Linked DNA regions of Homo sapiens: all the other regions are linked to region 2. Evidence: fine-mapped expression QTL. A gene starts in region 2. Each other region holds a variant in brackets. All regions are shown on one strand. Distances are from middle to middle.

Evidence for each region. PIP is the estimated chance that this variant, and not a neighbour inherited with it, causes the effect.
Region 1: its variant is the best candidate, but not a certain one, in a credible set for the expression of FOXN3 in whole blood (INTERVAL, PIP 0.89).
Region 3: its variant is the best candidate, but not a certain one, in a credible set for the expression of FOXN3 in whole blood (GTEx, PIP 0.71).

What each region holds. Positions count from the first base shown.
Region 1 is chr14:89,437,662-89,447,874 of GRCh38, reverse strand. It overlaps a transcript of FOXN3 not described here. Among named protein-coding and RNA genes, the nearest start is that of FOXN3-AS1, 25 kb to the right of the region's middle. RefSeq lists enhancers at 5,913-6,496, 6,536-6,830, 7,083-7,666 and a silencer at 6,536-6,830. The variant G/A (reference allele first, on the strand shown) is at 4,076.
Region 2 is chr14:89,412,013-89,422,225 of GRCh38, reverse strand. It overlaps FOXN3 (forkhead box N3), which reads left to right and starts at 4,993. Exons shown (of 6, transcript NM_005197.4): 1 at 4,993-5,355; 2 at 9,736-10,213. The coding sequence starts at 9,750. It overlaps FOXN3-AS1 (FOXN3 antisense RNA 1), which reads right to left and starts at 4,872. Exons shown (of 2, transcript NR_036500.1): 1 at 4,430-4,872; 2 at 2,433-3,066. RefSeq lists silencers at 4,612-4,901, 4,942-5,151 and enhancers at 4,847-5,141, 4,766-5,298, 5,299-5,832, 5,847-6,141.
Region 3 is chr14:89,338,674-89,348,886 of GRCh38, reverse strand. All of the region lies in intron 3 of FOXN3 (forkhead box N3), which reads left to right. Among named protein-coding and RNA genes, the nearest start is that of FOXN3-AS3, 6.5 kb to the left of the region's middle. RefSeq lists enhancers at 7,545-8,044, 8,045-8,546, 8,448-8,742, 9,265-9,534. The variant A/G (reference allele first, on the strand shown) is at 4,149.

The sequences.
Region 1 (10,213 bases), 26 kb before region 2:
TTGCACTCCAGCTTGGGCAACAGTGTGAGCTCCGTCTCAAAAAAAAAAAAAAAAAAAAAAGGAAGAAAGGCATCAGGAAACCACTGCGGATGATGACTTTCAACTGCAGATATTTACAGACAAGTCAAGCAAAACAGACTTGGTAGCAGAGAGACCCAGATTTGGTGTGGGTCACTGTTTATGTGGAAAGACTGGGTTTTTTTGTGCGGCCCTTGGGAGCCTGCCGGTCTCCTAGGCATGGGGTGTGTTTCCTAGTAGAGTATATATTTGGATGCTGGGAGTTGGTACTTCTCCTCGTGGCAATATTAGGTGCCACACAGTGTTTTTCAACAGAGAGGATGTCAGAGGGAGGGCTGGTGAAAGTTCAGAAAGACACTTTATACTATGTGGGGTTGCTGGATATCAGAGTGAACTTTGAGTCTAGCCCTCAGTTTTTCATTAAAACACCTGCTGAAGGATTTCACAGTTCCTTCCCGCCGCCCACCTTCTTAACTCACATACTCATCTCTGTGGAGAAAACTAGGCGTTCACTCTCCTGTATGACTGGTGGAGGAAGTAAATGAAGATTGTCTTTACAGAGACCAATTTGGCATCAGGTATCCAAGGCATTACAACGGGAATACCCTTGGACCCAGCAATTCTGCTTTTAGGAATTCGTTTTTTTTTTTTTTCCTTTTTGTGACGGAGTTTTGCTCTTGTTGTCCAGGCTGGAGTGCAATGGCGCGATCTCGGCTCACTGCAACCTCTGCCTCCCGGGATCAAGCGATTCTTCTGCCTCAGCCTCCCCAGTAGCTGGGACTACAGGTGCATGCCACCACACCCGGCTAATTTTGTATTTTTAGTAGAGACGGGGTTTCTCCATGTTAGTCAGGCTGGTCTCGAACTCCCGACCTCAGGTGATCCACCCGCCTTGGCCTCCCAAAGTGCTGGAATTACAGGCATGAGCCACCGTGCCCGGCCCAGGAATTCATTTTAAGGAAATAGAGATCTGTACAAGATATATTAATGAATCTGGCTGTTCATTTGGCCTTGTTCATAATAGTGGAAAACTGCAAATAACTTAAATATCCAAAAAGTGGCAAGTGGCCAAACCATGGGTCATTCACTCACTCTGCAGTTTATTGAATGCCTACTATGTGCCAGGCACCTGGTAGGTGTGAAAAGTGTGTAGTGACAACCAAGGCAGATATGGTCTCAGCCCACATGGAGCTCACAATTTTGTTGTTGTAGAAACAAATTTCATACAATATGAAGTAGAAAAAAGTGGAGTACTAAGTGTATTTACAGTGTGATTCCATTGTTGTTAAATAAATAGAAAAACTCTTTTCTAAGTTGTCCACAGTGGTCATTATGATTTTTGTAATTTCTTAAAAAAGTGACTTTTAGGGACAGGTACAGTGGCTCATGCCTGTAATCTCAGCATTTTGGGAGGCCAAGACAGGCGGGTCACTTGAGGTCAGGAGTTTGAGACCAGCCTGGCCAACATGGTGAAACCCCGTCTCTACCAAAAACACAAAAATTAGCCGAGCGTGGTGGCGCATGCCTGTAATCCCAGCTACTCGGGAGGCTGAGGCAGGAGAATCGCTTGAACCCAGGAGGTGGAGGTTGCAGTGAGCCGAGATTGGGCCTTCGCACTCCAGCATGGGGAACAGAGTGAGACTCTGTCTCAAAAAAAAAAGAAAAAAAAAAAAAAAAAAGACTTTTAGGAAGGAGAGAAAAAGAAGGAATCAGACCTGGGTTCTAGACCCAACTCTTCCTTAAAATTTTTTTTTTTTTTTTTTTTTTTTGAGGCAGGGTCTCGCTCTGTTACCCAGGCTAGAGTGCGGTGGTATAATCACAGCTCACTGCAAGCTCAAGTGATCCTCCCACCTCAGCCTTCCAAGTAGCTAGGACTACAGGTGCATGTCCTCCACCCCCGCCACCCCCCACCATGCCTGGCTAATTTTTAAAGTTTTCTGTAGTGATAGCGTCTCATTATGTTGCCCAGGCTGGTCTCAAACTCCTGGGCTCAAGGGATTCCACCACCTGGGCCTCCCAAAGTGCTGGGGTTATAGGTGTGAGCCACCATGCTCAGCCATCTTCCTTAAACTTGTGGTGAGACTTTGAATGAGTCAGAGGACCACGCTGAATTTCCTCCACACAGTGTGGGAGAGACCTCTGTGGCCTCCAGCCCAGGTTTTGAGATCTCAAACTCTGGTCTCTTCTGAGGACCCTGGGGGATTTTACGGCAGTGTGAAAAGGCCTGGAGTTTTCCCCAGGAGGCAGGACAGCAGCCAGGCTGCCTTGCTGAAGCCCTAATCCCTGGGCACTTTTGGTCTCCAGGGCCCAGGTCCTCCAGGAATCTGGTGATGTATTCAACTGGGGAAATGAAAAAGAGTTCCTGTATTAGCCATATGATAATTAAATTAAGGAAGTGCCTCTTGCCCAGCAAATAAAAACAAGGCATGATTGGTGTACCTGGCCTAACTTGCTTACCCAAATCTCACTGCACCCCAGGCAAACAAAATGACAGCAGCTCCATTGATTGAGCCTTACACAAGTGCCCAACACTGTACTTTGGGGACATTTTCCTAGTTAAGGGTCATGACACTGCTTGAAATAGGTAGTCACCATCCCCATTTTACAGATGGGGAACTCAAGTTCAGAAGTCGGGTATACCCGAGGATACTAGAGTAGCAGAGGCTGGAATTCAAACCCTAGTCTGCTTGCAAGCAACTTTTTTTTATTTTATTTTATTTTTGAGATTGGGTCTTGTTCTGCTTGTTCTGTCGCCTAGGTAGTCAGGAGTGCAGTGGCTCAATCATGGCCCACTTCAGCCTCAACCTCCTGGGCTCAAGCGATCTCCCATTTCAGCCTTCTGAGTAGCTGGGATCACAGGCATGTGCTACCATGTCCAGCTAATTTTTGTATTTTTTTTGTAGAGATGGGGTCTTGCTATGTTGCCCAGGCTGGTCTTGAACTCCTGGGCTCAACGGATACTGCTGCCTCGGCCTCCCAAAGTGCCGGGACTATAGGCGTGAGCCACTGCACCTGGCCTTGAAGCAACATTTTAAATCTCTGCTCTGAACTGCCTCCCAGACTAAGAAGCAAGTTCCACTGCAGCCATAAAAACAGATGTCTAAAGCTAGGGAATGTGTGATGGGTGTTGTAATCCATCAAGTGACAGAACATCGGGAAGCTGCGGAATATAGAGACTTAGGAAGGGCAAAATCTTATTTCTGATGAAACCTGATACAGAGAAAGCTACTTTAGCTGTTTTTCTGTGGGGTTGTAAATGATAAAATTGGGTTTTGACAGAGAGAGATACAGCCGCCTTCATGCTCACTATAATAACCGTTTCTCCTACTTGTGATTAGAAATCAAAGGCCAACTATTACACCTTATAAACCTATACCTCTTGAAAGAGTGATAACTTACACTAAGGCCTGACCTATGTTGTTTCTTTTTTTTTTTATGTGAAATATTTTACTTGCTGGGCTCCATTTTGCTTATTTAGCAGTGATTAACAGATAGTAAAACATATGAGATACTAGGGATACAGAGGAAAATATAAGTTAAAATAAAGAATTGGTTTCTTCCCCACCGCCCCCGCCCATCAAAAGAATGTTCCAGTATGACAGCTATTTCCTGTGTTTCAATTTCAATTCCTCTATATTTCAGTTTCTTCAGATTCATGTTATATAGTATGATCAGATTAATCTTCTAAAATACCACTTTCATAATGCCATCTCCACCTCTCTCTCCCATCTTCTCTGGAACATTTAATGGCTCCCCATTGTCTAGGATAAAATACAAACTTATGGGTTTAGATTTCGGATTTCTTCATAGTCTGCTTCCAAGTATGCTTTTTTTTTTTTTTTTTTTTTTGACAGAGTTTCATTCTTGTTGCCCAGGCTGGAATGCAATGGCATGATCTTGGCTCACTGCAACCTCCACCTCCTGGGTTCAAGCAATTCTCCTGCCTCAGCCTCCTGAGTAGCTGGGATTACAGGCATGCACCACCATGCCTAGCTAATTTTGTATTTTTAGTAGAGACAGAGTTGCTCCATGTTGGTCAGGCTGGTCTTGAACTCCC[G/A]ACCTCAGGTGACCCGCCCACCTTGGCCTCCCAAAGTGCTGGGATTACAGGCATGAGCCACTGCGCCCGGCCCCAACTTTACCTTTGCAACCATCTTTCCTGACAGTCCCATGAGGGACTCCTACTCAGATGAATTGGTCCATTTCTTGGTTCTCTGAATCTGCTCTTAGGTTTCCTCACTTTGAGCTTTTGTTTTACTGTGCCTGCCAGTAAAGAACACGGTAGAATATTCTCCCCTCCCCTTTCCTTTCTCTGAAGTTCTGCCCTTCCTCCCAGGCACTATTTGTATTTTTCCTTTTTTGAAAAACCAAAACATTCCTTGAATATCTCAGCCTGTGGTGATGAGCTCAGTTTCCCTTATCACATATTGTCTTTAACTGAAGTCCCATGTCCTGGAGGGCTACAACCAGCTCAGTGCCCTGCCTGTCCCAGGGGCTCCATAAACACCAATGAAAACAATATGCACAGTACAGCTGGCTAAAAAGGAACACTTTTTGTGCCAGCCATAAAATATGGCTATACCAAGGGAGGACCTCTTTCCCTTCAGAAAACAAATAGCCAGTTTTCCCTGTTGCACGTTTAAAATGCATATTCTGTGGTATTAGCTAATTATTTGTCATGCAGTTACCACTCATGACTAGTCCTGTTTTATGAATGAAATGGAAGCAGAGAGATGAAAATACTGGCATGACCTCACCAGTATTTTACTTGCTGGGCTCCATTTTGCTTATTTGCAATTTGCTGAGCCGTTGGCAGAAACAGCACTTGAACCCAAGTTTCCTTCTGCTATTGTTATCCTCTCTCCTTTAGAGCAGGTGTTGGCAAACCTTTTCTGTAAAGGGCCAGAGAATAAATAGTTCAGGCTTGCAGGCTATATGGTCTCTGTTGCAACTGTAGTATTCTGGCACTGTAGTGTGAAAGCACCTAAGACCATTCACCATTTTGGTTTGAACACTGAGCAGGCCCTCCAGTTGGGTGTAGGCTAATGTGTAAATTACATCCATGGCTGGGAAAGACTGGCTGGTTGGAGTAAATACTGGCTGGTTGGAGTGAAGACTGGCTGGTTGGGGTAAAACTGGGAAGTTGTAGATCTTCAAGCAGTAGACAGCCAGTCATCCCGTGGGCCATGGACATGGGCTGTGGTCACAAGGGAGACATGTTGGGGACACACTGCATACAACTCAGGGATCCGTTGTTTCCCAGAGCACATCCATCAGTCTCTCACTTGGCAAAGATTTCTAAGGCTTACTAGCTGCTGGGCAGACTGTGCCTGTTTAGCTTGCTCAGAAGATAGGAGTCATTTTGGCCAGTGGCAGCGCTGGGTGCAGTTATAGGAGACCTCAGCATGTGACATTCACTGCCATGCACTGTCTTCAGCCGAGAGAGCAGACCTGTTTCCCAAGATTGAACCTGTTAACTAAGTTCAGACACAGGTGTAGCAAATCAGAAAGCCTGTGCATTAATTTACAGTGACAACTATTACTGCCTGAAAGTGGCTTGATGAGCGTGGGAAAAGGGAAGGGAAGGTTGGATGATTTGAATGTTGAGTGTCATTGGAAAGGTCAGCCAGTTTCACCCGGGCGCGGTGGCTCACGGCTGTAATCCCAGCACTTTGGGAGGCTGAGGTGGATGGATCATCTGAGGTCAGGAGTTCGAGACCAGCCTGACCAACATGGAGAAACTCCATCTCTACTAAAAATACAAAATTAGCCAAGCGTGGTGGCGCATGCCTGTAATCCCAGCTACTTGGGAGGCTGAGGCAGGAAAATCGCTTGAACCTGGGAGGCGGAGGTTGCGGTGAGCCGAGATCATGCCATTGCACTCCAGCCCGGGCAACAAGAGGAAACTCCATCTCAAAAAAAAAAAAAAAAAAAAAAGTCAGCCGGTTTCAGCCCCCTGTGTAACTCAGCATTGGTGCTGAGATCCCAACCTCAAGGCCAGGGTTAATGCTGCCAGTGTGCTGGGTGGGGCTTGGAAGAGCTGTCACCTGTGTGGAATCCATAGGGACCCTCCAGGATCCCAACTTCCTGCCTACTTCCACCCCCCTCCCTCCTTTCAAGAGGACGCTTTATTTCATAGATATGTTAATGCATTCCACTTGGCAGGTTTGGACCTGAGCTCTTTCTGTCTCTTTCTTGGGGACTTTGCATATCCATACCCCAATCTGGTAGCCCTTGGTCCAACCCTGCGGAAGGATGATGCCCTTTCTGTTCCAGCTAGTAGGGTGTCTGGGGCAGAGCCTAGACCCTAAAAGTGATTAAGAGCGCCTGTAATGATCAGCGAGGCTATTTTAACAGTATAAGATAAAGGCAATGTGTTCCGTTGGTTCCCTGTGTTCCTCTTGCCCCGGCTTATTACTGCCCCAAGAAGGTAAATCACAAATCACCTTTCAGTTTCATCCTTTTTAACGTAAGGTGAATGGTATGAAAAATTTAGCAGGTTCAGGTCTCTGCAGGGAGGATGGGTTACATAGGGTTCAGGTAATTGGGAGGAGGGTTTTCCAGGAGAGACTGGTGTTAGTGAATGGAGTCGTTGGGGAGTTCTTCAGTCACAAAGCATTATGCAGATGCAGTTGTTGTTGTTATTCTGAATCGAGGCAGGGAGGAGGGAAAGGGCCCAGCAGGTTGGGACAGTGCAAAGGCCTCTGGGGGAGTTGGCCTGAAGGCTGAGAGATAAGACTTTGGGGAAGGGCAGGGTTGGGGAGGAAGGGAAGCCGGAGCCTCGGCCACTTTCTCATACTTAATTCAGGGGTTCCTTTTGTGCATTCAGACCTGTGCCCATCCTCTCTCCTAAAGAGGTCAGCATCCAGCCCCTCTTCATGGCTTGGACACGTGAACCCACCATTGCCATCATGTCTGCCTTGCTACAGCCTAGTTAGCATCACCTGAAACCATAAATAACATCAAAGAAAAGAGCCTATTACTAACCCACTGCAGAGTCCCACTGTTGCCCATTGACAGGTTGACAGGGGTTGAACGCACTGCTTTGCAGTGTACTTTTCATGGCATCTGTGTGAAGAGACCACCAAACAGGCTTTGTGTGAGCAACAAGGCTGTTTATTTCACCTGGGTGCAGGTGGGCTGAGTCCGAAAAGAGTCAGCGAAGGGAGATAAGGGTGGGGCCGTTTTATAGGATTTGGGTAGGTAAAGGAAAATTACAGTCAAAGGGCGTTTGTTCTCTGGCGGGCAGGAGTCGGGGTCGCAAGGTGCTCAGTGGGGGTGCTTTTTGAGCCAGGAAAAGGACTTTCACAAGGTAATGTCATCACTTAAGGCAAGAACCGGCCATTTACACTTCTTCTGTGGTGGAATGTCATCAGTTAAGGTGGGGCAGGGCATATTCACTTCTTTTGTGATTCTTCAGTTACTTCAGGCCATCTGGGCCTATACGTGCAAGTCACAGGGGATGCGATGGCTTGGCTTGGGCTCAGAGGCCTGACAGTACTGAAATAGGGGTCTCTCTGCTCCATGCGTTTGAGATATTCTGGTATCCCCAAGGCCTATAAAGGTTACCAGGAGGCTGCTGCTGCAGCCAGAGGCCAGGAAAGCACCCCTAGATCAGAGAAGGGGTGGTCTTTTCCTTTTCTTGCCTTAGTAGGGGTAGGCAGGCCAAGAAGCAGCACTGGTGGGAGTAGTGCCAAGTCTGCCTCTTAGCTGGATAACCATGGCAGGTCATTTTAACCTGCTTGAGGCCCAGGTACCCCCTAGGTAATATGGGGATAATAGCACCGTTACAGGAAAGGGGTCCCAATCCAGACTCCAAGAGTGGGTTCTTGGATCTGGCACAAGAAATAATTCAAGGCGAGTCCATAGAGTAAAGTGAAAGCAAGTTTATTAAGAAAGTAAAGGAGGCTGGACGCGGTGGGTCACGCCTGTAATCCCAGCACTTTGGGAGGCCGAGGCGGGTGGATCACGACGTCAGGAGATTGAGACCATCCTGGCTAACACGGTGAAACCCCGTCTCTACTAAAATACAAAAAATTAGCCGGGCGTGGTGGCGGGCGCCTGTAATCCCAGCTACTTTGGAGGCTGAGGCAGGAGAATGGCGTGAACCTGGGAGGCAGAGCTTGCAATGAGCAGAGATCACACCACTGCACTCTAGCCTGGGCAACAGAGCAAGACTCCGTCTCAAAAAAAAAAAAAAAAGGAATAAAAGAATGGCTACTCCATGGGCAGAGCAGCCCTGAGTGCTGCTCATTGCTCATTTTTATGGTTATTTCTTGATGAGATGCTAAACAAGATGTGGATTATTCATTTCTCCCCTTTTTAGACCATATAGGGTAACTTCCTGATGTTGCCATGGCATTTGTAAATTGTCATGGTGCTGGTGGGAGTGTAGCAGTGAGGACGACCAGAGGTCACTCTCGTCACCATCTTGGTTTTGGCAGGTTTTGGCCGGCTTCTTTAATGCAAACTGTTTTATCAGCAGAGTTTTTATGACCTGCATCTTGTGCTGACCTCTCATTTCATCCTGAGACTTAGAATGCCTTAACTATCTGGGAATGCCGCTCAGTATGTCTCAGCCTCATTTTACCCAGCTCCTATTCATGATGGAGTTGCTCTGGATTACGTGCCTCTGAGAGTACCTACCTCAAAGAGCTATTGGCAGAGCTAGAGGAGCTAGTCTGTGTAAAGCTATGAGCCCAGCATATAGAAGGCACACACAGGGTTGGATGCAGGCTTTGTGTGGCCTGAAAGCCTATTCAATTTGGCAGGGGTGGGTACCTCTTTAAGAAAAGAATGTAAGGCCAGGCGTGGTGGCTCACGCTTGTAATCCCAGCACTTTGGGAGGCCGAGGTGGGCAGACCACCTGAGGTTGGGAGTTCGAAACCAGCCGACCAACATGGAGAAACTCTGTCCTACTAAAAATACGAAATTAGCTGGGCGTGGTGGTGCATGCCTGTAATCCCAGCTACTCAAGCTGAGGCAGGAGAATCCTTAGAACCTGGGAGGCGGAGGTTGCAGTGGGCCGAGATTGCGCCATTGCACTCTAGCCTGGGCAACAAGAGTGAAACATCGTCTCAAAAAAAAAAAGAAAGAAAAGAATGTAAAAGTACCAGATATAAGAGTGAGTATAGATTTCAAATGATGAAAGAAAACACAAGGAAGTATATGTTTAAGAAACTGACAACCTTACATCACAAAATGCAGAAAAATAAAATATGATTACTTGTTATCTGTTTGATATGTTACATTATTTTTCTTCCTACATATTTTAGGCTATATATTCTGATCATTTCTTCATATGACAATGATTTTGGAATGCCATTATCTCTAGAGAGAATAGAAGATAATTTTCAATTTTCTTATTCCTCCAGCCTGAATGGTTGGGATTTGTTCTTCACTATTGATAGCTAAGAAAAAAATTTGTAAGCTTCACAACTAGTTGTTGGTAACACCATGTAAACGTTTAGGACTACTCTCAAATTTGGGAAAACCTTAAGTTTCTTTCATATATAAGGCGTCAGATTTTATGGCATTTAAATGTTCTTGTACAATGACTCATCTTATTTACTGAAGGTGCTCATTCAGCACATTGCTGGGACCCATCCCAGGGCCCAAGAAGGGGCCAGTGGGAGTGAGGAGACTTGAGCTTTCAGCTTCAGTGTTTCATGGTCAGCCCTCTTGTAAGTCAGTTCTCAATAAACATTAACTAAATTATATTTGTATGATTTTTATTGACACTTTAATTTTCTAATTTTGGAATTACTAAAGAATGTGTTCTTATGCATGCTAAATATAATCTTAGTTAAATCTGTACAGCAGTCGTTCATTCATTATCATTTGTTAACCATCTACTTTGATCAACCAACTTCACCTTGATTGTTGGGAGCCTTCTGTGACATAAAGCAGATAAAACCCTAGCTCATTGTCTGTCATGTAGTAACCACTCAATAAACTTAGCCATTATGACTGTTGCAGATAAAGGGTTCTAGTCCTGACCCCCAAGAGAGGGTCCTTGGATCTTGCACAAGAAAGAATTCAGGTTGGGTTCCTACAGTAATGTGAAAGCAGCTTTATTAGGAAAGCAAAGGAATAAAAGAATGGCTATTCCATAGACAGAGCAGCCCTGATGGCTGCTGGTTGCCTATTTTTATGGTTATTTCTTGATGATATGCTAAACAAGGTGTGGATTATTCAT
Region 2 (10,213 bases):
CCACTGCTCCAGTGGACGCCCCCTCAACCCCCTTATAACATTATAAATGTAATGGGCCAGGTGCGGTGGCTTATGCCTGTAATCCCAGCACTTTGGGAGGCCGAAGCCGGAAGATTGCTTGAGACCAGGAGTTTGAGACCAGCCTGGGCAAAATAGCGAGACCCCATCTCTACAGAAAAATTAGCCTGGCATGGTGGCATGCGCCTGTAGTCCTGGCTACTTGGAGGCTGAGGAAGGAGGATTGTTTGAGTCTAGGAGTTCGAGGCTGCAGTGAGTTACGATTGCACCACTGTGCTCCAGCCTGGATGACAGAGCCAGACTCTGTCAAATAAATTAATGTATATATGTATGTATATATGTAATGGGTGTTTATTGTAGACCATTTGAAAAATAGCGGGGCCCAGCACGGTGGCTCGCGCCTGTAATCCCAGCACTTTGGGAGGCTGAGGCGGGCAGATCACCTGAGGTTGGCAGCTCGAGACCAGCCTGACCAACGTGGAGAAACCCCGTCTCTACTAAAAAAATACAAAAATTAGCCGTGCGTGGTGGTGCATGCCTGTAATCCCACCTACTCGGGAGGCTGAGGCAGGAGAATTGCTTGAACCCCAGAGGCAGAGGCTGCAGTGAGCCAAGATGGCGCCACTGCACTCCAGCCTGGCCAACAAGAGCAAAACTCCATCTCAAAAAAAAAAAAAAATTTCCCTGGGTGGAAACACCATAAACCAATTGCCCACACGGACAATTGCACGATTTCACATGAATTCTCAGCAATATGTTTGGCCTGGTGCAGTGGCTCATGCCTGTAGTCCCAGCACTTTGGGAGGCTGAGGCAGGCGGATCACCTGAGGTCAGGAGTTCAAGACCAGCCTGACCAACATGGAGAAACCCCGTCTCTATAAAAATACAAAATTAGCCAGGTGTGGTGGTGCATGCCTATAATCCCAGCTACTCGGGAGGCTGGGGCAGGAGAATCACTTGAACCTGGGAGGTGGAGGTTGCAGTGAGCCGAGATTGTGCCATTGCACTCCAGCCTGGGCAACAAGAGCAAAACTCTTGTCTCAAAAAAAAAAAAAAAAAAAAGAAAGAAAGAAAATATGGACAAGTATGAAAGAAGCACACAAAAAAGAAGTATCCCATAACTCTAACATTCAGAAGGAACCACTATTTTAGCCTTTTTTCCCCAATTTTTTTTTTTCTTAAACAGTCTTCATTCTGTTTTGTATGAATTACTGCAATGATTTCTGAGTTGTTCTGCTGGTTTTTGATCTTCCAGTTTCTCTCTTCCTCTCCCGAAATTCATCTTGGATCCACCATCCCCATTTATCTTTTTTTTTTTTTTTAATTCGTATCTCTGATAATACAACTTCTGGGCTCAAAAATATTCAGTGAGCCACCTTTGCCCTCTGACCTTAACACATATAAATTGCTCACCCTGCTATTCAAGGAGTTTGGTGATATGATGCTTGCACTCTTACCCACTAATCTGTGTGCTCTTTAGGGACAAAGACCGTCTATCTCTGGCAGCTAACACAATGCCATGCACTTGGTAGGCACTCAGCAAATATTTGTTCAGTGAATGAGTTCCTCTTCTACTACAATCAAGTCAGATTTGGTAATTCTGTGCCATCGATTTCTCTTGGAACAGCAGTTTGTAAGCAAAATCATCCCCTTGTGCTTTCTCAAAATACACATATCCAGGCACCATCCTAGAAGACTCTAGTTGGTTAGGTGTGGCTTCTGGATGGTTCTGATGGGCATCCCCAGGTGAGAAGCTCAGGTCAAGAACACCCCTTCCCCATTTCCACAGGTTAAACAGCAACCCACCCTTATTAGATATCCCACTTCCAAAGTCATCTCCCCTCCCTTCCCCAGATGTTTCACCATGTCCCTTGTCTCAGCTGTTAGCAGTAGGGAGTGGTGGGGGGCCATGCGCGTAGGGGAGTCATGTGACTCAGGCTAGGCCAATCGCACTATTTCCCTGAGAAGTTAAACTATGTCATGGAAGGCTTGAGGCAGTTCAAAGGTGGTGGGTGCTAAAAGTCAGAAGGCCTCAGGGCTTGCTGCTGGCAGCCCTGTGTGGTTATCATTGAGCAGAGGAAGCCAACCTGCAGGGTAGAGAGTGGAGTCACCTATAGAGGGAAGCACGAAAGGAATATGGTTCTGTGCAGGCCAGCGGTGTGTGCCTGCCCAGCCTCCCCGTATTTCCTCTCATATATCCTTTGTACTGGAGTCTCTTTGCAGGATCCCTCCCCAGAAGACTGTCTTTCCAGGCCTGCCTCGGACTCTTCCTATTTTGGGCAGTCTCTCAGGTCTTCCCGACTGCACCTGCTCACCTACTCAGTTGTACTGCCTCAAGGGGGGCAAGGTATATCGGGTTTTATACTTAACTATTCCATAAATAGCCATGCTGCTCTAATAACCAATACAGTGTGTGTGTAGGGGGATTAAAGTTCTTGACCAGAGAAACATTTAGCAAAAGAATGCACAAAACATCAAGGGAGGGGCGCTCTTCTCCTTGGAGGAGGAACTGAGGTCCCACGCTGATGGGGGCAGATAAGCCTGGAATTGAGGACTTCCAGCTCCCAGATACTTATGTACTCTCCAGCCCATGCTCAGATGGGGCTGCAGAATGGTCCCATCAAGTCCTCTATCAGGAAATAAGTGTTTCTCAAAGTGATTTCTAGGGCACATATACAATTCGGCTGTTAAATGTGTTTGTAAAACAGTGTAGACAAGACATTAGACAATGCAGCTTGCTTATTTGTGACTTCTCAGGACCTAAGACGCAAGGGTCCTTTCTGAAAGTTCATGGGGAATTGTGAATGGGGTTGTTCCCAAACAAATTTGGCCCCTGCACCCTAGGTCAGGAAGCAAGTCCCAGAGCTGAGGTTCTATGGAATTAGAAGGTGGAAAAGGCCACATTAAGCCCTCCTTTGGCTTTCAGCATTTTTTCCCCCATTTCAGATAGACCGACAGGCAGACATGTGTCCCCTGCTGTCCACATCAGGCAGGGCTGGTCCACCACTTCCTCTTCAGGGTGACACCTTCTCACATCTCTTGCTGCAACTGTAATGGGAGAGAGAAATTAAGAAATATGTTTGAGAATGCAAGAAGCAAAAACACACATGGAATGACATATTCCATGTACAATCACCTTTGGCTCACATCCCCTCTTTTTGAACTCTGAGAAAGCAGGAGGGGACTGGGGCCGGTGAAAATAAGGTGCCACCTCTACTTAATATAAAGAGATTTCTGGCTATTGTGTGAGTGTAGCTGGGGGACTTGGGGGTGGGGTTGGGGGCTGGGGATGGAAGAGGAAGATGTAAGGGGGCGACTTCGTCCTCTCTAGGCCAGCAAGGGCTTGGACAAAGGTCTCTGGCCTTGGTTCCTCTGGCGGAGAATAAGCACCCTCAACTGACGCGCTGATGGAGGGGCAGGACCTGCATTAGCCGGAGCTACAGGAAAGCAGGGTACACATTGTCTCATCCTGGCTTTGTTACCACTTCTAACCCTGAGAATCTCTGGCGTGAGACTTCAAAGATCATCTGACTTGTCTCTGCCACCTTGTGCCTTTTGCTTAGTGACTTTGGGTAGGTCGCATCAAGTGCTCAGTAATCAAAGGGGTGGGGCTGGATGACCTCAGGCTACCCCTGGGCTTCCACCTCCTAATTGTCTCCAGATGGGGAGATGCCACACAACTTGGAAGTAGTAAGGTCTCCGGTGAGTCTGAAAGGCACATCTTTGCTGAAGACTTGTCACCTGCCCTCTTGAACCTTTGTTAGGGGGAATGACTCTCAGATTGGGGGGGGGGGGTCTATTTTTTGAGACAGAAAAAATTTTCAGAAGCCTAACTGGTGTTTCCCTTAGTCCCTCCTTTTGGCTAGGTTTAAAAGTACTGCATGCTAGAAAGCTTTCTCCAGGTCTACTCGCTGTTTTTTTCTGTAGTTTTCAGACCGCTCACGATGTCCTGTCCACTGGCTCAGGAGGGGGTGGCAGGAAGGGTGCCCTGGGCTTCTCCTCTGTAGAGGAACCAACCAATTTGGCTACCTGGGAGTAATGTGCAATCACATTTTTATTTTTGTCACCACCAGGGTGTCCTGTTGGACTCTCTCCTCTCATCCTCTCCCAAGGCGGCTGGTTGGTGTGGCTTTAGCAGTGGGTGCTATTATTTGGAGGTGCCTAGAGACTTAGAGTGGTGGCTGCACCATTTCGCTGGGTGGCTTGCGAATTGTCAGTCTGGTTCCTGAGAGCTCAAACTGAGATGGAAATGAGACCTGTTTTCTCTCTAGGCCGGCCGGGGCGTTCCGCACAACCCACTTGAGAGGCCCCACCGGCGTGGCCTTTAGGACGGTGCCTCTTGTCTTGTAATGGCCACCGGCCCTCCCTCGGGAGACACGCGGCCACCTGGGTGGGACGCTGCGGTGCTTACCTCCGGGACACGAGGTGGTCGCTGGGAGAGGGCTCGGAAGGCCCTGGGGGTCCTATCAGGACGCAGCACTGGGGAGACGTGGAATCTCCTCTTCTCACCCCCACAAGCCTCGCCCGCATCGTAATTCTTTTTATTTTTACTTTCGAGCCATGTAAGGCATGCAGATGGGGTAGGAGCGTTCCCGCGACACGTTGCCAGCAGCGCAGCGCCGGCCCGCTCGTGTGGCCGGAGCCCGGGGAGGGGACAGGGCACGCGCCGCCTGACCCACCTGCCCCACCGCCCACGGTCGCGGCCGCCCTGGGTCGCGGGACCCGCGCCGGTCACCCCCGCCCCGCGGGGCCCAAGAGGCGAGGCCGCGCGGCCCAGCCCCGGCCTCCGCCCTGGCTGAGTGCTGGGGCGCGCGAGGGGCGCGGGCAGGGTCCGCCCCGGCGGGTCAGTGCCCCGCGCCCCAGGCCGCTGGCGGCCAGGCCCACGTTTTCCCTTTCTCCGGCTCCCTCCGCCCTCCGCTCTGTCCCTCCCTCCGCCCTCCTCCCTCCCCGCGCTTCCCCTCCTCCTGCCTGGTCATGTGTCGCCTTTTTTTGTTTGCAGTGGAAACAATTTCTCGCCGCTCGGCGCGCCCCGGCCCGACGCGCCGCGGCGGAGGCGAGCGGGAGGCGGGACGGGGCGGGGAGAGCGGCGGGGCCGGCGGGAGGACGCGCGGCGCGCCCGGCGGACGCCGCAGGTCCCATGCCGCGCCGCGACCCCCGCGCCCCTGCCGCCCGCGCCCGCGGCCGCCCCCCGCCGCCCGCCGCCCCGGGCTCGCCGCGCCGCGCCCGCGCGTCCTTAGCGGGGCCACCGAGCGATGCCCGCCGGGCGCCCGCGAAAGTTTGTCGGCTCCTGCTGAAGGGCAGCGGCGCCCCCGCACCCCCGTGCCCCGCTCCGGCCAGGTGAGTTTGCACCCCGCTCCTGCCGGCTCCCGCGTGGGCTCGGGGGGCACCCGGGGCGGGAGGCGCGTCCGAGACGGTCCTGGAGACTACCTCGCCGCTCTGGGAAGACGAGGGACCCCGCAGGTCCTGGGGGGAGGGTCGGGTGTGGACCCCGGGAGCCCCCGAGCCGGGAAGTTGCCGGGTCCGAAGAGTTTCCTGCCCCGACGTGCGTGCTGCTTCCCGGTGCCTCGGTTTCCGAAAAGACGCCCGCAAGGAACAGAGTTGGTATTGTCTGCGGAGGACGGGGTCCCCGCCGTTCCGGGCCGGGGAGGGGGTTCCGATCAAGTGGAGACCCCAAGATGAGAAACAGGCTCCTAACAAAGATCACCCCCCGGCCAAACTGTGCAGACTTGGCACAGGCAACGAACGTCTCCGGAGACCCCCGAGGCCCGACCCCCCTCATCCCGGCCCTGTTTGAAACCCTCCTTGGGCCCTGGATAAGTTGGGGGACGGCGGGCTTTTATTGATTTGTTTTCGAGGCTCGCCGCGGTGCGGCCAATAAAAGGTTTATGACATCTGACCGGCAGTGAAGGTATGCGAGCTCCCAATTGCCCTGTATATGGGGATAAGAGCAGTTTCCCCCGTTGCCCGGCAACGCCGCTGATTGACGCGGGGTGCAGCCAATCGCCACTCCCGCAGGTCCCCTTGAAATGTTTTTGACAAGTACAGTAGACGAGAGTGAAGCGCGTGCGTGCGCGCGCGCGCGTGCTGGGTGGGCGGGGGTGACCCGGCCCCCCAAACTCGCTACTGCTCGGCTCTGGGAAGATTTCTTAACTTTTTAAAGTTCGCATCGAACATCTGTTCAGAGCTGGGCCAGTAATGTCTTTGTCAGTTATTTGGAGACCTTCTGTTTACTAGGCGAGAAACTAAGCTTTCTTGCCGCATTTTCTCCGTTAAAAAATAAAGAGGGTAACAAAACACAGCAAGTCATAAAAAAAACAAAAGAGGGTGTGTGTGTGTGTGTGTGTGTGTGTGTGTGTGTGTAGAGAAAAGTTGTAAGGAGGTCACCAGTGAATAACTATTTGCGTATCTGGTGGAGCAGCCTTGTTGGCAGCAGATTAAAAATGTTTGCTTAACTGCAACTCACATGATCCAGATTCTTTTTTTTTCCCTCTGAAACAGGAGGAAAAAAAGATTTGGCGAAATCTGTAGTTAGAGTATAATAATGGAAAACTCCTCAGCTGTGGTTTCTGGGAACTGTTTTTTTTTTTTTTTTTTTTTTTTTTTGGTTATTGTTGTTTTGTTTTGTTTTTACATGGAACTGTAGTGATCAGCAGCTCTTCACCCTGTTGGTATAAAATGCGGGATTTATAGGGATGCAGTGAGTGGTTGGAGAGTACGGGGTCCCAGCACAAAACGCACACATGATCCAAGGGTACTGAACTCCCATAACCCTCTCTTCGTGACAATGCCACTTTTTCTCCTAAAACCATATTGCTGGCAGTGTTTGTTTAAAACAAAAGGAAACATGGAGAATAGCGTGTTAGTTCCTCTGGGAAGCTACTGACAAATAAGCAAATTAAAAAGAAAGAGAGCAGCATGTTGTCATAGCAACAGTGCAATTAAATTACTTTACTGTCAGCCATGATATAATTTTCCTGTTTGGAAGCTCAGGAGACATAAAACTTTCATTTAGAGCTAAAGTTGACTTCAGTGGCTGGGTAGTTCTGTTTTATACTCTACTGTGGGCATATGCTGGTCATCAGAAAATTTTCTGATGGGATCTGAGGAAACTTTAAGAAAGACAAGTGGTGCTATAATTCGTTCATAAAGAAGTTAAAAGCAGGATCAGACCAGACTCTGTTGTATCCCCAAGCCAAAAGATGCTAGCTTGTTTTTTGTCTGAAATGTGTCAGGGTAACCTCCTTATTTGACAGAAAGAAATATTCCCTGTGAGTGAACCCAAGACGTCTGGAGCATCCTGCCTGGTCTGTACTGCAATGCCTCATGAAGTTTTCTCTCCTTAAGAGTTGGGCATCTTGGCCAGGCGCGGTGGCTCACGCCTGTAATCCCAGCACTTTGGGAGGCCGAGGCGGGTGGATCACGAGATCAAGAGATTGAGACCATCCTGGCCAACATGGTGAAACCCCGTCTTACTAAAAATACAAAAATTAACCAGTCATGGTGGCACACGCCTGTAGTCCCAGCTACTTGGGAGGCTGAGGCAGGAGAATCTCTTGAACCTGGGAGGCAGGGGTTGCAGTGAGCGGATTTTGCACCACTGCACTCCAGCCTGGGCAACAGAGTGAGACTCTGTCTCAAAAAAAAAAAAAAAAAAAACCGGTTGGGCCTCTCACCACAGCTCCCCCTTAGGCCTTGCGTCTAGCAGGTTCTACCTTTTGGAAGAGGGAAGGTACTATAATTCACAGGCACCCTTGGCTGGTAGGTTAGTGCCCAGGATTATGCCTTCTAGAATTCCCTAATAGAGCTTCCACAGCTGAAGTGGCAGTTGTTTTAGATGTGGTGTTAATGAACATTTAAGAGACATAGAAGGGTCATGTCTTTGCCTTTTTAATTTTATTTATTTATTTTTTTGAGACAGGGTCTCCCTCTGTTGCCCAGGCTGGAGTGCAGTGAGCCTCAACCTCCTGGGCTCAAGTGATCCTCCCACCTCAGCCTCCCAAGTAGCTGGGACTACAGGCACACACCACCACACCTAGCGAATTTTTGTATTTTTTTGGTGGAGATGGCGTTTTACCATGTTGGCCAGGCTGGTCTTGAACTTCTGAGCTCAAGGGATCCTCCTGCCTCAGACTCCCAAAGTGATGGGATTATAAGCATGAGCTACCATGCCTGGCCTATGTCTTTGCTTTTAAATATGTTCATTCATCCCTCCTCCTTCTTCTCCTCCTCCTCCTCCTCCTCCATCCCTCCTCCTCCTCCCCCTTCTCCTCCCCCTCCCGCTTCTTCCTCCTTCCTCCCCTTGCCCTGCCCTGCCCTGCCCTTCCCTGCCCTTCCCTTCTCTTGCCCTCCCTTCCCCTCCTCTCCTCTCCCCTCCCTTCCCTTCCTTTTCCCTTCTCTTTCCCTTCCTTTCTTCTTTCCCTTCCCTTCTTTTTTTCCTTCTTCTTTCCCTTCTTCCTTCCCTTCCCTTCTCCCTTCCCTTCCCCCTTCTCTTCCGTTCCCTTCCCCCTTCTCTTCCGTTCCCTTCCCCCTTCTCTTCCATTCCCTTCCCTTCTTCCTTACCTTCTTCAAAACTTTTGAGACAGCATCTCACTCTGTTGCTCAGGCTGGAGTGCAGTGGTACAGTCATGGCTCACTGCAGCCTCAGCTTCTTGGGTTCAAGCAGTCCTCCCACTCAGCCTCCCAAGTAGCTGGGACTACAGGCACATGCCACCATGCCCGGCTAATTTTTGTATTTTTCATAGAGATGGGGTTTCGCCATGTTGCCCAGGCTGGTCTCAAACCCCTGGGCTCAAGTGATCCTCCTGCCTCAGCCTCCCAAAGTGGTGAGATTATAGGCGTGAGCCACCATGCCCAGCCTGTTCATTTGTTTTCTAGGTAGATGCTTGATTTTCTTACTGTTCGTTTGTGGGGGGAATTAAAACCTAACAGTTTTAAACCAAGCATATTGTTTTAGCGCTACGGAGAGTGGGAGACCTTTTTGGTTATCTTTACTGTTCTTTCTGTGTTACGTTGGGTGCTGGAGGGTTGAACATGCTTTGTGTCTGTAGGGGTCATTCTGTTTGTAAACGTACCACCTCCTCGTTTTCTTTTCTCATCAGATGTTATTTTACTCCGTGTTCTAGGTCATTGATAAAAATGGGGATGGTGGTGGGTCGGGGTGGAGGGATAGAATTCTATGGCATGTTTTGTTGAATTGAATTGAATTTGCTGTCTTGAAACTGGCAGTTGCTCTCCTGACTTTTTTCACCAGCTCTAATTTCAGTTAATGGCTTATCTTACATTCCCATGTATTCTGTGTGGTACCTGAAGTTACTTGCTTTTCTTCTGTTCTGGAAGAAAAAATAATTCACAGTAAAATTTAACGTACTTTAAAACTGGTCTCCTGGTCTCAAGCAATCGTCCCGCCTCAGCCTCCCAAAGTGCTGGGATTACAGGCGTGAGCCACCGTGCCTGGCCGGTGTTACTGGTCTTATTTTATTTAAGGGGCATCAGGTCACCTTGCTATATGAATGGCGGGCTGATTTTTCTCATCAGCCTATCTCTCTGTGGTGGAATTGTGGGATTGTGTTGCTTAGTGTGGGAGTCACAAGGTGGTGTTCCTGTGTAGCAGGGGTTCCATAGAGGCGGCAGAGGGAGGCAACAGGATCAGAGGGGTACAGTCTGCCTTTCTGTTTTGGGCCTCGCCAGCTCATCATTTCTTTGTGATGTCTTTACTAGGAGCCTTCACGTAAATGGGTCCAGTCATGCCTCCCAGTAAGAAGCCAGAAAGCTCAGGAATTAGTGTCTCCAGTGGACTGAGTCAGTGTTACGGGGGCAGCGGTTTCTCCAAGGCCCTTCAGGAAGACGATGACCTCGACTTTTCTCTGCCTGACATCCGATTAGAAGAGGGGGCCATGGAAGATGAAGAGCTGACCAACCTGAACTGGCTGCACGAGAGCAAGAACTTGCTGAAGAGCTTTGGGGAGTCGGTCCTCAGGAGTGTCAGCCCCGTCCAGGACCTGGACGATGACACCCCCCCATCCCCTGCCCACTCTGACATGCCCTACGATGCCAGGCAGAACCCCAACTGCAAACCCCCCTACTCCTTCAGCTGCCTCATATTTATGGCCATCGAGGACTCTCCAACCAAGCGCCTGCCAGTGAAGGATATCTACAACTGGATCTTGGAACATTTTCCGTATTTTGCAAATGCACC
Region 3 (10,213 bases), 73 kb after region 2:
ATTCGAAGGATTATAGAGGAGCTCTGGGGGTTGGAACAGGAATGCATATTCAGGCGAGAGGCATTCTGAGCTGGCCTTAGCTTAATGACTTCATTTGATTTTTAATATAGACATAAAAATGCAGATGAACCAGAGCTTTTGTAATGAAAATCATTTCCGAAGGAATATTTCAGACCCCACTCCGTCACCTCCAGCCTTTATCCCCAGTTGACTGAGGGGGGAAAAAAAACCAGTTTCTGCTTCTGCCCATGCGGTGCTTAGATTTCACCTCCACAGAGGTCACTGGCGGTGGAGGGAGATGACAGATGAGATTCTAGTCTGCCTCTTCCATGCCTTAAGTCCATGAGAACAAGTCACTTTCTCTTTCCTGGGGACTGTCATCCCTTCATCTGAAAGCTGAGAGTTTGCTTCAGGATCCTCTAGTGTGTGAAATTGCACTGAAGCCACTGAACACTGGGTAATTGTACAATATTTCTGTGTCTTAACAGTGATGTGGCATTTGGTTCAATTCTAAGCCATCAGGCCACTTGTTGACATGACCTAGAGAAGATGGAAGTGAAACACCGAGTCATTAAACAGGGACCCCAAAATGCCGAATTGACGTGATCTGGCTGGGTCCACTGTGATGCGGGGAATCACCCGTCAGCCCCTTGCTGGATCGCTGTGAGGGGTACCTGGGAAGTGCTTGGCTTTCATGGGGCTGGTACTTAGCATCCTGAAGAAGATGGTGATTATACTAGATGGGCGGTTATTGCTAGGACTTGCAGGTGTGCTTGGCAAATGTCACTCTGAACTGAGCTGCAGGTGGCTGGAAATGCTGCGGGAAAAGCGAGACATTTGAGAGCACTGCCCAGACCTTGCTCACATCCAAATACCATGCTAAATATTGAGATGTGTAGACCCGTGCCTCTGTTTTCCTTTTTTGCTTTTTTTTGAGACGGAGTCTTGCTCTCTCTCCAGGCTGGAGTGCAGCGGTGCAATCTTGGCTCACTGCAACCTCCGCCTCCTGGGTTCAAGGGATTCTTCTGCCTCAGCCGCCTGAGAGTAGCTGGGACTACAGGCAGGCGCCACCACACCCAGCTAATTTTTGTATTTTTCGTAGAGATGGGGTTTTACCTTGTTGGCCAGGCTGGTCTCAATCTCTTGAACTCATGATCCGCCCGCCTCGGCCTCCCAAAGTGCTGGGATTACAGGCGTGAGCCACCGCGCCCGGCCCATGCCTCTGTTTTCTAAAGTGCCCTTTTGAATGTATGTTAGGATGTTCTTCCACACCTGCTTTGTTGATACCAAATTTGTGAATTGTTTTTAATCGAAGTGCAGAGCTCAGCGTGGAGTACTTCAAACCAAGTGACTTAAACAACAGAAACTTACTGTCTCAAGGTTCTGGAGGCTGGAAGTCCGAGACCAATGTGTCGGCAGGGTTGGTTCCTTCTGTGGGCTGTGAGGGAGGGTCTGTTCCACCCCTCTCTCCTAGCTTCTGGTGGTTTACTGGCATTTTGCTGGAATGCTTTTGGCCTTCCTTGGCCTGTCGAAACATCACTCTGATTTCTGCCTTCACCTTCACTTGGCATTCGTTTTCTCCATGTGGTGTCTATGTCCAAATTTTCCCTTCTTGTAAGGACACACTGGTCGTATTGGCTTAGAGGCCCATCTTTCTCCCGTAATAATTCATCCTATTTAACTAATTACATTTTCAATGGCCCTGTTCCCAAATAAGGTCATGTTCAGATGTACTGGGGGCTAGATCTTCAATGTAGGAATTTTGGGGAGGCATAAATCACCCCATAGCAACCCTTTTCTTAAGGGAGACATTTTGCTGATGAATATATGGAGAAGCAGAAAGTAAGGAAATATTTAAAGAACAAAATGGTGGGGTGGGGGGCAGGGGTGTCAAAGGGATTCGCCTGAAGTTGCTCCTAGTAGCCAAAGCTGGGACGGTGATGAGCAGCAAAATAAATAACATAGTGTTGGATTATAACTGGAAATATAAAATAAATACCTATGAGTCCAGACTGATAGAAATAAATGATTGAATAAATAAACAAACAAATAAATGAGAGAAGAGACACAATTCCCATTCAGAGGGTTCCAAATGCTTGATGTAGCTCTTTCTCCACTGAAAGAGGTGGGACGGAACTCTCCACTCCTGGAATGGCTGCACTTAATGACCTACTTCTAAAGATGAGAGCATGGAAAAGGTTGGAAAAGGGAGTTTGGAGTGGACAAACCTGGTGAACAGTATGCCACAGGTGATGAAAGTACCATCCTCAGTGATGTGATGTTGATACCGGGTACCTCTCGTAGGACATCATAAATTTGGCACTTCAGCTTTGTGGTCTTTCTCCCCAAACTCATAACCCCTGTCTAGTCATGGGAAAAACATCAAACAATGATTTTGTCCTTCAGCAGGGACATTCTACAAAAATAACTTGATCCTCACTCCTCAAAGCCCCAAGGTCATCAGAAACAGGGAAAGTCTTAGAATCTATTACAGACCAGAGGAGACTAAGAAGACATGATGAGCAAATGTGTCCTATGATGTCCTGGATGGGATCCTGGAACAGAAAAAGGACATTAGGGGAAAATGTGCAAAATATGAATTAACTGTGCAGTTTAGTTAATAGTAATAGTAGTATGCTGCATGTTTATAGCAGCACAATTTGCTGCTGCAAAGATATGGAACCAACCTAAATGCCCATCAACCTATGAGTAGATAAGGAAAATGTGGTATATATACACCATGGAATACTACTCAGCCATAAAAAGGAACAAAATAATGTCTTTTGCAGCAATTTAAATGCAGCTGGAGGCCATTATTCTTTTCTTTTATTTTTTGAGACAGGGTCTCACTCTGTCGCCAGGCTGGAGTGCAGTGCCGCGATCTCGGCTCACTGCGATCTCTGCCGCTCAGGTTCAAGTGATTCTCCTGCTTCAGCCTCCCGAGTAGCTGGGATTACAGGCACCTACCATGAAGCCCTGCTAATTTTTGTGGTTTTTAGTAGAGACGGGGTTTCACCATCTTGGCCAGGCTGGTCTTGAACTCCTGACCTTGTGATCCACCACCTCGGTCTCCCTAAGTGGGATTACAGGCGTGAGCCACTGTGCCCGGCCTGGAGGCCGTTATTCTAAGTGAAGTAACTCAGGAATGGAAAACCAATGGAAAACGTATGTTCTCACTTATAAGTGGGTGCTAAACTGTGAGGAAGGAAAGGCATGAGAATGATATAATGGACTTTGGGGACTCGGAGGGGAGTAGGGGGAAGGTTGGGAGGGGGATTAAGGATAAAAGACTATCTATGGGGTGACAAGTGCACTAAAATCTCCGAAATCACCACTAAAGAATTTATCCATGTAACCCAAAACCATCTGTACCCCAAAAACTATTGAAATAAAAAAATAGTAGTATACCAGTGTTGTGACAAGTGCCTTATTAGTAATATATGGTGTTAACATCAGGGAAAACTAAGTGAGGGGTATGCAGGAGCTTTCTGTGCTATCTTTGTAACTTCTCTTTCCTTTTTTTTTTTTTTAAAGCAGTCTCCAAAATGCAGACTCATTGATCAATTTTAGATATCCCGATTGTTTTTGGTAGAATGAAAAGTAAAATCACTGCAGCACTGAGAGTTGCCTGACCTACTTTAGTGAAGAGCTGATTGTGAAGGGCTCTTGCTTTTGCCTCATTCTCTGGAAGATCTGCTGAGCCACACGAGGGGTCTCTTTGTAGTTTGGATACTACAGTTCTTGGAACGTTAGTTTTGTGAAATGGCACTCCACTGTGCTTTGTAGAGTACCCGTGGCTGAGCTCGGGCTACTCATGCACACCGAGCCACGCCAGCTTGCTTGGGGAATCTACACCTTTGCCAAGGAGACTCTGGCGTGGGGCCTTCGGAATCTAGATCTGGAAAGTGGAAGGAGGGGTGGTGTGTTTGGGTTGCTTGCCCGTACCTCTTCGGAAAAGTCCACTGAGCTGTTCTAATCTTTATGTTGCCTGTGCCCCTCCTTCCTAGATACGTCATTTCTCATTAAAGAATATGCGTATTTTAATGTTTCCAGTAGACATTGCCAAATTGCCTTCTGATTTTACACTCGGTTCTAGTCCACATTCCCACCAACTTTTTAGGAAATTTCTATTTTTCTAACCTTTCTCA[A/G]TGTCTGACAGTTAAATGAAAAGACAGTTCCTCAATGGGTGACCTTGACTTTGTGATTTTGGTACTTATAGTGGGGGTATTTAAACTTCGTAACACTACATTAACACCCTATAAACAGCAGCTCTCCCCATAATAATGTTTATGACAACAGATTGTTTTTAGAGAGTGACATATATATGGGTCTTATGTAATACCTTCTCTGCTATAGGCACCAATCCAAAGTCAGTTTCCAGAAAAACATTTTAATCCTCTCTCACCATGGTTGGAGAACAGGTTTTGCATTTAATCAAACAGTATGGTTTATGGAGAGTTTCCTGGATGATTGGTTTTCAGAGCCAGCGTTGTTTTGTGTTTCCTTGGTAATTCCAAAGAAATCCCAGCATCCTACGTACCTTTGGCCTCCATGATGGATTGACCATGATTGGGTGTTAGATGGTCAGAAACTGAGTGAGATGGTTTTTTTTTTTTTTTCTTTAATGAGCTTTCCCTTTTTTTGCTTTAAAATTTTCAATGTAAAAATAATGACATCATAGTCTATATTTCATGTAAAGTATTGTGGCTTAACATGTACAAAGTTAGAAAAATCCACAAGACTCATTTGCTGATCTAGGTCTAAAGATTTATTTTTTGGATGACTATAAAATTTGCAGAGTTAGAACATTTCAAGAAAGTTTCTCGGCTCGATGCGGTGGCTCACGCCTGTAATCCCAGCACTTTGGGAGGCCAAGGTGGGTGGATCACTTGAGGTCAGGAGTTCAAGACCAGCCTGGCCAACGTGGTGAAACCCCATCTCTACCAAAAAATACAAAAATTAGCTGGGTGTGGTGGCAGGCACCTGCAATCAGCTACTCGGGAGGCTAAGGCAGGAGAATTGCTTGAACCTGGGAGGTGGAGGTTGCAGTGAGCCGAGATTGCACCATTGCACTCCACCCTGGGCAACAGAGTGAGACTGTCTCAAAACAAACAAACCAACCAAAATAAAGTTTCTTTTACTCTCATCTTTTTTTTTTTTTTGGAATAAATTCCAGACATTTAAGCTTCTCCTTTTAGCTGTTTCTGTTTGCTTCCTCAGAGGAATTTAACGAGCCGCAAAAAAGAAAAAAAAAAAAAACCACACACATTAATGGCCTCTCCAAAGATTTTGGCCTTTCTGATATTGAGGTTCTTAATGAAAATGGCAGATTTTAGTGCTGACTCAGCAAGTTCTATTATCCTGCCTGCTGCCCTATTGATGTCCTTTTTTTTTTTTAATTTAAATGTCTTCATAGAGTAATACTGCTAAGGGTATAGAAATTGTACAGAGTGGTCACTGTATATTCAAATTAACAAAGTTATCAGTCATTGTTCACCAGGTAAATAATCTTTGGCTGTCATAGTGAGGCTGGGAATAGTAGATAGGGGAATTGCATTGGGAGGAGGTGGGGAAGGTACTGAGGTGTTTAGGGAACTCATCCTTTTAGACAATTAGAAGATTAGAAAATCCTTAAAATGTTAATCTTGTTAACATAACGGTGTTAATTCCTCCACTCAGAATGCTGAATTTGCACACAGCAAGGAATAGCTTATTCATTGCTTGGATAGGATCCAATAATTTTTTAATTTATAAGACATCTTTCATTCTAGTTATTCAGAGTGTTGTGCGTTTAATAGTTGGCAGAAGCACTGCAAAGCCACAATGAAATCAGTTTTAACTTACATTGAAGGACTTTAATTGTTAGATTGTGGTGTCATTGCAAGTGTTAATTCAGTCAAGCATAAAGAAAGATTGCAAGGATTTCGATTAGTTGCTTCATTATTACAAATATATTTACTTGAAAGCAACATATTTGATGGAAACCCGAAATAGTTTTTTAAATGCCCCTCATATTCAATACACTTATTTGGATAAGTTTAATTTAAAAGCGTGAGGCATTATGCATTTTGAAAGATTATGTTTAAACAGCACTTTTTGCTGGGAGTAATTTTTGAAAGAATATTAAATTTAAAAAAATCAATATGAAGCTTCATGGTGCTAAACAGGTAGGAGAGTGTGGTAAATTAATGCAGTAAAGTAGATGTGGGATTGAATACCGGGGCTTTCAAAGTGGTAGCACTTCCAAATATACATTATATTTTGTTAAAAAATTGGAGGGGATGAAGAATAGGAAAGGCTTAAATTGTAAGGGCACACTCTTTAAAAAACACAGTGCTCATTGACAGTGGGAGCTTTAAAAATCCATTAGTTGGCTATAATTTTATTTTCATATCAAATCATGTTGTCTTTTGACTTCCATTATATTTCCTGAGTTGGTCTCATAGAATAATTTTGTTCTCAGCATTTTGCCTTCGGTATGCTGTTCATTATACGTTTAATTCTGAGTCAATCCTGTGTTGTTTTATTTAAATGGAAAACAGTCCCTGTTATCTTTGAGCACTTTGTATCAGGGGTAGCTCATGAATATTATGCCCAGTCATCCAATTTCATTCTGTTTTCACACTCACTTTGAAAGTTGAATGTTTAAGTAGCTGGGCTGATTATATCTATTTTACTCAGGTACTGAGTCAAACTCGTGACTGAGAGAACCACTCCGAGTTACCTTTTTATCTTCTGACCTCCTGGGGTGCCCTCAGTCCCTGGTTTGTATTTTAATAGCCAAAGCGTTAGAAGTTCTTTAAGTCTACTACAGATAAATTTCCATTGACCTAACTCCTGAGATGATGGATACCAAAGAAACTCTGTGTTTCCAATACCTCATGAGAAGAAAGTTGCAGTGTTGATGGGCCTAGTAGGTGCCTGGAGTCTTTGCAGATTTGCTTGGTGAGTATTTACTTCTCGGGATAGCCAGCCAAGGATTCCTGAGCACAGCGACGCCTTAGGCATCGTTAGAGGGGGAAGTGTCTGCAAAGTGGGGCTCACCTGCATTCTGCATATTTGTCAAACCCCTCGCCTTCCCAGAGGAGGAGAAATTGATCCTCATGTTAGAAATAGGAAAACTGTCAAAAGTGCATGAAATCAACCGTGTACAACGTGAAACAACAGGCGGCACTTTGTCTTGTAGAAGCTTAAAAATAGCACATTTTTCATCAATAATAGAAAATAAAAACCTGTTAGCACATCTAAGATGGTCTCATAGAATATTTTTGATCTCAGCATTTTGTCTTCTCCAAGTTCTGGTCACACTAAATACTTGCAAATTTTCTAGATTAACAAAGGAGGGAGATTAAGAAGTAGAGGTGCAGTATAATTAGATGGGAAGTGGAACCCATCATTCATAAAAGATTTGAAGAACATAGAATGGGGGATTGATAAGGAAAGCGATCAGGTTGGCAGGGGCATCCATGTGTTACTGTTGAAGAACAGGGAATGTGTAACCCGGGAAGAGCACCTTCAGAAGGTTAGCATGCCAGCCATCCTCACCATCAGAGAGGACAGATTTGGACTTGATGGATCGAAGTTATAGAAAGAAGGATTTGGGGTCAAGACAGAACAGCATCTGACAGTGTGCCAGGCACATAACAGAAGCTGGGTAAATGCTAGAGTTGTTGGGTGGGTGGACAGATGAAGGGGATGAAGGTAGAATGAGCTACCCCCAGGGATGCCAGTCGAGGCTAGACAACCAGCTGCCAGGGTCGTCCCAAGATTTAACTCTTACTGGAGAACTGCAGGGTTATCGCTTCCAGCTCTTGAGATGTTGTTTCTGAGTTTCTTGGGCTGCCATGACAGTCGAGGCATATCCCTCTGCAACATGGTGTTTGTAGTTTATAAGGTGGAAATGAAACTTGAGGGAATAGATGCATAGCTTTGTTAGCCAGCAATGAGAGGTCAGGCTCTTCTCTTGAAATTAAGTGCAGATTTCAAGACCGTGATGGGACTAATTCAGTTACTCTTCGTTCTGTGTCATCCAGCTTTTTGATTCATGCCCTACAATTACCTCCCTTGTTTTAGTGACACTTCTTTGCATTTCCTTCCGTGTGAATAAAATGATCACGGCAGTGTTTTGCCAAGCAGAAGATCATTTCCAAAAGCTGTCCATCAAATCATCCCAACCTCCCCCCTATTGTTTATCCACTGAATTGATGAGAATAACACCCACCCTTTGCATAAATCTCCATGGAAGAGCCAAACTGGTGTCCTTGTTTTGTGGAAGCACATGTTCTTGGCCAGAGTCTCTGATCACATTCATAACCTTTTGTTTTTCTTACATAAGGTTCGTGTTGCATTATTTGTCAAAGCATCTCTGAGACTCTGCCATGGATGTGAGAGGTACGGAAAGAGCGTGGGAAGCATCAGAGATTCCACATTAATTCCTAACTTTTGCTGATTTTTAAATCATCTGGAGAAAACCTCCATAAACCATTGAGACACATTAAAAAAAATCCTTATCTTCTCAAATTGAGTTGCTTAATCACCATAGTCCAAGTTGAGACATGTTTCCTGTGTGTTTACTTTTAAATGGAAAGTTTTGGTCAAAGTCTGTTTATGAGCTGCTTATTCCAACATATGTCTCTCTAACACACATCAGTTTCCCCCTTCCCTCAGAACACACGCCCCAACCAGTTTGGGCAGAAGAAAAATGAATGGGAAAAACACATTCAGAGGGGAAAAAACATTACCAAATTTTAGTAGCTTTTTTTACCTCCTTCCCCTGCACCCCCCTTCCTTCTTCTCTTTCCTCTCTCTTTCTCTTTGCAGCTGTGGGTCTTCTGAATGAAAGCTTTTTGTTTGTTTGTTTTAACTGTAAGGAGAGCAGAGTTTCTTATCTTAGGATTCTTCTGAACTGGAAATTGCCCCCCACCCCCAAACCCTCCTATTCTTTTCTACTGATGAGAAACACATCAAGAGATTTCCCTGCATTTCAAGCTTCCCAGCAGAGTCCCGCGTGGGAGGTGGGGGTTCTGGCCTGGCTTTGGTGCATTCACCAGCCCCCAGGCCTCCAGCCCAGGCTTAGCTTCACCTGCATTTGCAGGGGAGTGGCCCCGAATTGGTGCTGCAGATGGGCACAGCGGCTCTGTCACCCTCAGGAGGAGGAGGCCAGTCCGAGGAAACAGTGAGGAAGCAGAGAAATGAAAAAGATCCCACAGTCTGAAGCTCTCAAAGCGTGACTCTGGCTTCCCCGCCTGCCCGATCCTGCCCGCAGTAGAGCAGGAGTCAGAAACTCTGTCCTGGGCCTGTCTCCCATGAGCTTTAGTGCCCCAGAGAGGTCCTTCTGCCTCCCCAGCATTGGAAGGAGCAGGATCCGAGAGAACCACACGCTTGCCCTGGTGCAGACGGGGACTGGAGGGTCTCCATGCTTCCTCCCAGCTCCTGCAGGTTGGCCAATGTCGCAGCAGGCTCAGAGCAGATCTTAGTTAGGTCTAGAAAGAGGCTCAGGTTAGAGCCTCCCTGGGCCACTCACTAGCTGTGTGACCTTGGACATGTTACCTGAAGCCTCTGGTCCCTGAGCCTCTGTTTTGTTACTCATTGTGGCATAAGAATACTTGTCTTAGGCTGGGCGTGGTGGCTCACACCTGTAATCTCAGCACTTTGGGAGGCCGAGGCGGGCAGATCACCTGAGGTCAGGGGTTTGAGACCAGCCTGGCCAACGTGGCAAAACCTCGTCTCTCCTAAAAAGAACAAAAATTAGCTGGGTATGGTGGCAGGCACCTGTAATCCCAGCAACTCACCCAGGAGGCAGAGGTTGCAGTGAGCCGAGATCGCACCGTTGCACTCCAGCCTGGGTAACAAGAGTGAAACTCTGTCTCAAAAACAAACCAACAAAAAGAATACTTGTCTTAAACGAGTGCTTTAGGGATTAAATTAAGTAAAATGATGTACCAAATGCCTAGCCCTTGTGCCTGGCCCAGGGAAAGTCATTGAATTTGATTTCTCCTTCCTCACCATTGCCACTGTCTTTTAATAATTGTGCAGTCTTGTTTCTGCAAATGCTGCATACCAAATATTTTTTTTCTTTGAGACAGAGTTTTGCCCTTTCACCCAGGCTGGAGTGAAGTGGTATGATCTTGGCTCACTGCAGCCTCCTCCATGCCTCCCTGCCCACCCCCAGGTTCAAGTGATTCTTCTCCCTCAGCCTCCGAGTAGCTGGGAT